Homo sapiens: one gene and its partner. The protein of the gene in region 2 interacts with the protein of the main gene of each other region in a pairwise test. Each region holds a gene or a part of one and is shown on either strand. Other genes may lie near its edges. The genes, in order: PTPN5 and SNX4.

Region 1 (3,819 bases), on a different chromosome or scaffold from region 2:
CCATATTGGCTAGGGTGGTGTCAAACTCCTGACCTCAAGTGATCCACCCGCCTCGGCCTGGTGCTGGGATTACAGCCATGAGCCACCATGCCCAGCTCCAACTTTATTAGCTCCAGGGGGTGGTTCAGAATATATTTTGTATTTTAAACCCAGTTTGTCTCTAAGATAATCTTACTATAATCTTATATCAATTTCTTTAATATCAGGCTCTGTACTGAGCCTTGGGGGACACACAGATAACTAAGAGCCAGTCCCTGCCCTCCACCCAGCATTCGGCCTAGTGAGTTGAGTGAGAAATGCATTAAAGGCCCACTGAGGCTGTCTTATGGGAGCACTCAGGAGGGCACAAAAACAGAGTCTGGGAAGCTGCACAGAAGAGACCCGAAGGACAAGCAGGAGTTCACCAGATACAGGGAGGACATTCCAGGCAGGGAACACTGCAGGGCAAAGGCCCGGAGAGGTGAAAGCACAAGGTATGCCAGGCAGACGAGGCAGCTCAGTGTAGCCACAGAGTAGACGTAAGAGGGACTCTTGTCACACAGCAGACGGCTTCATGAATCAGCCTAAGACACACTAACTTTGACTCACAGGCCATTTTTTCTCAGGGGGACAGAGGCAGGTATTGCCATGCTAGTTGGCATTTAGAAATCTGTGTGTGTATTGGGGGTTAGTGGGGAAAACGTGACAACGTGGATGGATCTCAAAAACTATGTCTTTTTTTTTTTTTGGAGATGGAGTCTCGTTCTGTCACCCAGGCTTGAGTGCAGTGGCATGATCTTGGCTCACTGCAACCTCCACCTCCCAGGTTCCAGGGATTCTCCTGCCTCAGCCTCCCGAGTAGCTGGGACTACAGGTGTGTACCACCATGCCCAGCTAATTTTTGTATTTTTAGTAGAGATGGGATTTCACCATGTTGGCTAGGCTGGTCTCGAACTCCTGACCTCAGATGATCCACCCGTCTTGGCCTTCCAAAGTGCTGGGGTTACAGGTATGAGCCACTGCGTCTGGCTTCTTAAAAACTATTTCATGACACAAAAGAGCATGTACTATATGATTCCACTTATATGACGATTAGGAACAGACAAAATCCATCTACAATGATAGAAATTGGAATAATCGTTATCTCTGAACTTTTGCGGGTGATGGAAATCTTCTGAGTCTTGCTCTTGGTGATGGTTATATGAGCTCATGCAGTTGTCAAAATGCACTGAACAGAACACTTAAGATCTATACATTGGACTGCTTGTAAAGTAAACCTGAAGAACATGTGTGAGCATTTTTGGTTGTTATAATGACTGAAGGGTGCTCCAGGCAAATATATAGGAGATGGGGCCAGGGATGCTTTTACATCAAAGAACTCTCCCACCCAAAGGCCAGTAGGTCCCTGTTGAGAAATACGGCTGCAAGCTATGGGGAGCCACAGAAGGATGGAAACACCAGAGACTTGGCCACATCTGTACTTTGGTAAGACAGGGCTCTGTGGTGGTGGGAGTATCTTGGGACAGTGATGTGGCACAGAAGGTGGATATATGATTTTCACTGCCACTCCTAGGCCTCGTATTTGCCTAACTCTTAGCCCACTGGCCTGATGCTGCCCCGAAGGGGCCCCAGGAGGTCCCTCTGAGGTACCTCAGATGCTGACCAGCTAGGGAAGTAGCAGAGGCAGCAGATGGCAGTGGGAAATGGCAATGCCTCACCCCCAGCCTCCCTGCCTCATGATAAGCAGCAAGGATGATAGAAGTGATCATCTTCCTCTGAAGTGGAGTCTCAGTGAAGGGGTCTCCCTGAGTGTCTAGAGTCCCTGGAAGCAGGGCTGAACGCTACTGCTGCTACTATAGGAAAGCACTGTTTTACATCATGGGCTAAAGAAGAACACAGCTGACTTGCGTGAAAATACTCACCTGACCCCTGCCTTCGGAAAGCCTTCTCTGACCTCCGTCCTGGGCAGGTGTCTCTCCTGTGTTCCCACAGCCCTACAGAGCACAGTTACTGCCTAGGTTTAAATTCTGGCTCTGACTCTTGCTGTGCGTACCTGAAATAGAGTTACTCAAGCTCTCTGTTTCCTCACCTGCAAATTGAGGATAACAGAAACCGTCTTCACTGAACTGTCACCAAGATTGAGATAATGTAGTAAGCACTCAGTAAGAGTGAGTGCTTATGATGAGCCTAGAATGCATCAGTACAGACCACTGTTGCCAGGTGACTCCTCTGGCACCTCCACTAGACATTAAGCTCCTTGCGGGCAGGGTCCTTGTGGTCGTGTTGATTGCTGAGGGCCTTGTGTCCACCACAGTGCCTGGTACAGTAAATACTTGCATGCTTGAATCAATTCCACCCACTAAGATCTCTCCTGAGAGCTTTCTTTTTCCACCCACAATGCCTCTAAATCACAACAATTCTTCAGAAACGGAGTCAGACTCATTTGTATTCTGTTCCCTCTTCTCTCTTCTCTGTTACCTCCATGGCCATGCAGAACCCAAACAACATTTAGTTTTTAAATTAACAGCTTCTTCCTGGACTCTCTATTCCTAAGACTTCACTCAGTGGTCTTCATACTGGGCACACAAAAATCCTTTTTAAAAAATGCACCCTGCACCTCTCAAAAAGTGAAACACAGAATGATCATACGATCCAGCAATTCCACTGCGAGGTATATACCCCAAAGAATTGAAAGCGGGGGCTCAAACAGATCCTGGCACACCAATGTTCATAGCCGTATTATTCACAATAGCCAAAAGGTGGAAACAGATGAATGGCCAAACAATGTGGTATATCCATACAATGGAATATATTCAGCTTTGAAAATAAATGAGATTCTGATATATGATACCACAGAGACGACCCTTGAAAACATTAGGCTAAGTGAAAGAAGCCAGACAAAAAAAGACAAACATGATGCCACTTACACGAGGCACCTAGAATAGGTGAATTTATGGAGACAGAAAGTAGAACGGAGGTCACCAGAGGCTGGGGGAGATGGGAATGAGGAATTAGTATTTAATGAGTACAGCGATTCAGTCTGGGAAGATAAAAAGATTCTGGAGATGGACAGTGGTGATGGTTGTATAACACTGTAAATATACTTAACGCCACAAAATTATACAGTTAACATTGGTTAAAATGGTAAATTTCGTGTTATGTGTATTTTACCACAATTTAATAAAAGCCTCCCACACCAAACAAACAAAACACTGGAAGGACAGACTTCCCTCTGAAATCTGACAGAGCTGCATGTCCCTCTGCCACCCCTAGGGCTCTGTGACCTTGACCCCCTGGCCCATGATCTATCTTCCTCTCCATCCTCTCCTTGGTTCCAACTCTTGGGTTCCCTGTTCTTTTTCTTTTTTTCTTTTTGAGACAGGGTCTCACTCTGTCACCCAGGCTGGAGTGCAGCGGCGCTATCTTGGCTCACTGCAACCTCTGCCTCCTGGGTTCAAGCAATTCTCATGCCTCAGCCTCCTGAGTAGGAGGGGCTGCAGGTGTGCGCCACCATGCCTGGCTAATTTTTATATTTTTACTAGGGACAGAGTTTCACCGTGTTGGCCAGGCTGGTCTCAAACTCCTGACCCCAAATGATCCCCTGCCTCAGCCTCCCAAAGTGCTGGGATTACAGGCATGAGCCACTGCACCAAGCTCCCTGTTCTTTTTCTACTCCAGACGCCAGGGCCACGACATGTTCTTTTCCTTGCACCCCTCTTTAACCACCTTGATCCCATCATATCTCTTGAGGGTGCTTCAGATGGATGCTTTGAGACTCTGAGATGGAAAAGCTATGTGCCTGGAGATGCTCATTATTGACTATGTGCAACAATAAAGACA
Region 2 (3,819 bases):
AGACAAATACTGTATGATTCCACTTATATGAGACACCAGTGTTTACACTGTATTAGGTATTAATAATCTAGAGATAATTTAAAGCAGGGGGTCCCCAACCCCAGAGCCACGGAGTGATACCAGTCCATGGCCTGTTTGGAACCAGGCTGCATAGCAGGAGGCAAGCGACCACCTGAGCTCTGCCTCCTGTCAGATCAGCAGCAGAGGCATTAGATTCTCTTAGGAGCACGAACCCTATTGTGAACTGCGCATGTGAGGGATCCAGGTTGTGTGTTCCTTGTGAAAATCTAATGCCTGAGATGATCTGAAATGAAACAGTTTCATCCCGAAATCATCCTCAGCACCCCCTGCCCTGGTCCATGGAAAAACTGTCTTCCACAAAACAGGTCCCTAGTGCCAAAAAGGTTGGCGACTGCTGATTTAAAGTATACAAAAGGATATGCACAGGTTACATGCAAATACTACACCATTTTATAGAAGGGACTTAAGCATCTGAGGATTTTGGTATCCCAGGGATCCTTAAACCAATCTCACTGAAGATACTGAGGGATGACTGCACTACTGAACTATATACTTAAAAATGGACAAGATGGTACATTTTATGTTATATATATTTCACTACACACACAAAGGAAATAGAAAACATTTGCCATATTTCCCCTAAGTCAGACAAAACCACCATAAGCTTCACAACCAGGGATCTCTTATATGAGTTTTTATTTATTTTTACAGAGTCATAGCCAAGAATCCTAATAGAATTTCTAACACTGAAATAATATGGAGTAGTCAAAAAGAAGACACTTCTAACTGAATTTCTTTTTTTTTTTGAAATGGGGTCTTGCTCTGTTGCCCAGGCTAGAATGTAATGGCACAATCATGGCTCACTGCAGCCTCAACCTCCTGGGCTCAAGTGATCCTCCCACCTCTGCCTCCCAAGTGGCTGGGACCACAGGTGCATGCCACCACACCCAGCTAATTTTTAAATTTTTGGTAAAGACAGGGTCTAGCTATATTAATCCACACTGGTCTCAAATTCCTGGGCTCAAGCAATTCTGGGTTTACGCCTCTGCTGCTAAAGGTGTCGGGATTGCCATTGTAAGCTACCATACCCGGCTTGAATTTCATAATCAAATGGAAAACTTCCACGTGAAATATTAGACGTTATTTCTTACTCTGTATGAATGATATTTTAAAAATTACTTTATGTTATAAAAAAAGTCGATAAATTCACTAGGCAACTATGGAAATAAACCAAACTAAAGAAGCATATTTAAAATCTGCATAACTCAACGCTCAAACTTGGGCATCTATTAATAAAACAGGATACCTAAATCCAAGCATGGGAAGGCAACCCCAAGCTTCACTGCTTTAACATTTCCTCACTCTCTGGAGTTTACTGAAGAAAACACTTTTCCCTTGACATGTAGGATAGAGAACCAAGCTCCCTGAAAATGGCCTGGGAACTTCTCCCACTGAGTTTTAAAAATAAACCAAGGGCCTAGTTTATACATGTGTCCTGGTCACAAGTCTTTCCCCACATATATCTGTGACTTTTCACAGATGTAGCCAGTGGGTAATCTCTGTGAAAAGCACTTTTAAAACTATAGTGCTTGGCCAGGCGCGCTGGCTCATGCCTATAATCCCAGCACTTTGGGTGGCCGAGGCGGGCGGATCACGAGGTCAGGAGATTCAGACCATCTTGGCTAACATGGTGAAACCCCGTCTGTACTAAAAGTGCAAAAAAAAAATTGGTCGGGCGTGGTGGCAGGCGCCTGTAGTCCCAGCTATTCAGGAGGCTGAGGCAGGAGAATGGTGTGAACCCAGGAGGTGGAGCTTGCAGTGAGCCACACTCTAACCTGGGCAACAGAGCGAAACTCGGTCTAAAAACAAACAAACAAACAAACAAAAACTACAGTGCTTATTAACTAAGTAGAGACATTGCTGCTGGTTTACTACTTTCAGAATGTGTGTTGCTCACCATGATGGCTGATTTATTGCAATGAAATAACTGGAGTAGAAAGCTGATTATAAAAATGATCCAAGACTAATGCAATCAGGTACAGAATTTTCCTCACAAGTACTCACTGTAAGCATTAAAGAATAAAGTACATCAAAAGCTCCCTGTTAGGCGAGATGCACTGGTTCTAAGTGGGTAAGGCTTTTCAAAGTCAACTAAAATTTCTGCAAAGTACCTTGCAAAGTTAAACCTGATAAAGGTCACTGCATGTTTTTTCACTTGGACTTAGAAACCAGATGATAGACTAGGCATGGTGGCTTACCCCTGTAATCCTAGCACTTTGGGAGGCGGAGGTGGGAGGATCACTTGAGTCCAGGAGTTTGAGACCACCCTGGTCAACATGATGAGACTATAAACAAAATTAGCCAGGCATGGGGGCACATGCCTGTGGTCCCAACTACTCAAGAGGCTGAGGCAGGAAGACCACTTGATCCCAGGAGTTTGAGGCTTCCATGAGCCCTGATCATACCACTGCACTCCAGCCTGGGAAACAGAACCAGACCTTGTCTCAAAAAATAAAAATTAATAAAAACAATTTTTTTGAGATGGAGTCTTGCTCTGTCACCCAGGCTGGAGTGCAGTGGCGTGACCTCGGGTCACTGCAACCTCCGATTCCCTGGTTCAAGCAATTCTTCTGCCTCACCTTCCCGAGTAGCTGGGACTACAGGCGTGAGGCACCACACCTGGCTAATTTTTGTATTTCTAGTAGAGATCGGGTTTCACCATGTTGGCCAGGCTAATCTCGAACTCCTGACCTCAGGTGATCCACTGGCCTTGGCCTCCCAAAGTGCTGGGATTACAGGTGTGAGCCACCGTGCCCAGCCCAATAATTTTTTTTTTTTTTAAAACGAAACCGGATGATACTGATTACACCAGAGAAATGTTGGCAAAATTTCTTATAATTCTATACAGTACATGGTTTTAATGGCTTACATCATTTTGTATCAAGATAATAATAAAAGAATTATAAAGTTACTCACAAATTATTCCCCTGTAAAAGGTTCAGCCGTCCTGAGTATTGTAACTGGAACTGATTCTACAGGAGTGAGTTACTCACTCAGAGTGAGTGCTTGTGAGGAACATTCCGTGTTGCTACAGTATCATCAGAGGCCAAAAGGAAAATACTCACCCCAGTTACCAGTTCCTCACACTGCTGCTTCTTGGATGCTAAGTCCTGAGCAGCCATCTCCAAGTCATACTGCATAAGTTCATGTTTCCTGCACACAGCCCTACAGATGAAAAAATGTGCTGCCATTTAACTTTTCCTTTAACATGTCAAACATTTTTTTCAAGGGTAGAGGAGAACCATTCACAATGTCTCGCTAGGGCAGAATGTGTGTGCCCAGAATTTTCAAGTTTAAAATGTAGTAGCCCAACATTAAAAATGGAATCTAATGGAATCTAGCAGAACCTAACCATAAAAACTTCATATATTCTTTTTTTTTTTTTTTTTTTTTTGAGACAGAGTTTTGCTCTTGTTGCCCAGGCTGGAGTGCAATGGCGCGATCTCGGCTCACTGCAACCTCCGCCTCCCGGGTTCAAATGATTCTCCTGCCTCAGCTTCCCTAGTAGATGGGATTACAGGCATGCGCCACCACACCCAGCTAATTTTGTATTTTTAGTAGAGATGGGAATTCTCCATATTGGCCAGGCTGGTCTCAAACTGCTGACCTGAGGTGACCCACCCACTTCGGCCTCCCAAAGTACTGGGATTACAGGCATGAGCCACCTGTACCCGGCCAAAAACGTCATATATTCTTAACACAAAAAAAGTTGTTTTCCATATACTTGGAACATTTCTT

The links.
Region 1: the proteins of SNX4 (region 2) and PTPN5 interact in a two-hybrid assay, tested with the Homo sapiens proteins (one large-scale study listed by BioGRID and IntAct).

What each region holds. Positions count from the first base shown.
Region 1 is NC_000011.10:18,781,518-18,785,336, forward strand, and holds part of PTPN5 (tyrosine-protein phosphatase non-receptor type 5), read right to left. Parts: intron 1-3,819. UniProt on the Homo sapiens protein: May regulate the activity of several effector molecules involved in synaptic plasticity and neuronal cell survival, including MAPKs, Src family kinases and NMDA receptors.
Region 2 is NC_000003.12:125,454,120-125,457,938, forward strand, and holds part of SNX4 (sorting nexin-4), read right to left. Parts: intron 3,247-3,819; coding exon 3,147-3,246; intron 1-3,146. UniProt on the Homo sapiens protein: Involved in the regulation of endocytosis and in several stages of intracellular trafficking. Plays a role in recycling endocytosed transferrin receptor and prevent its degradation.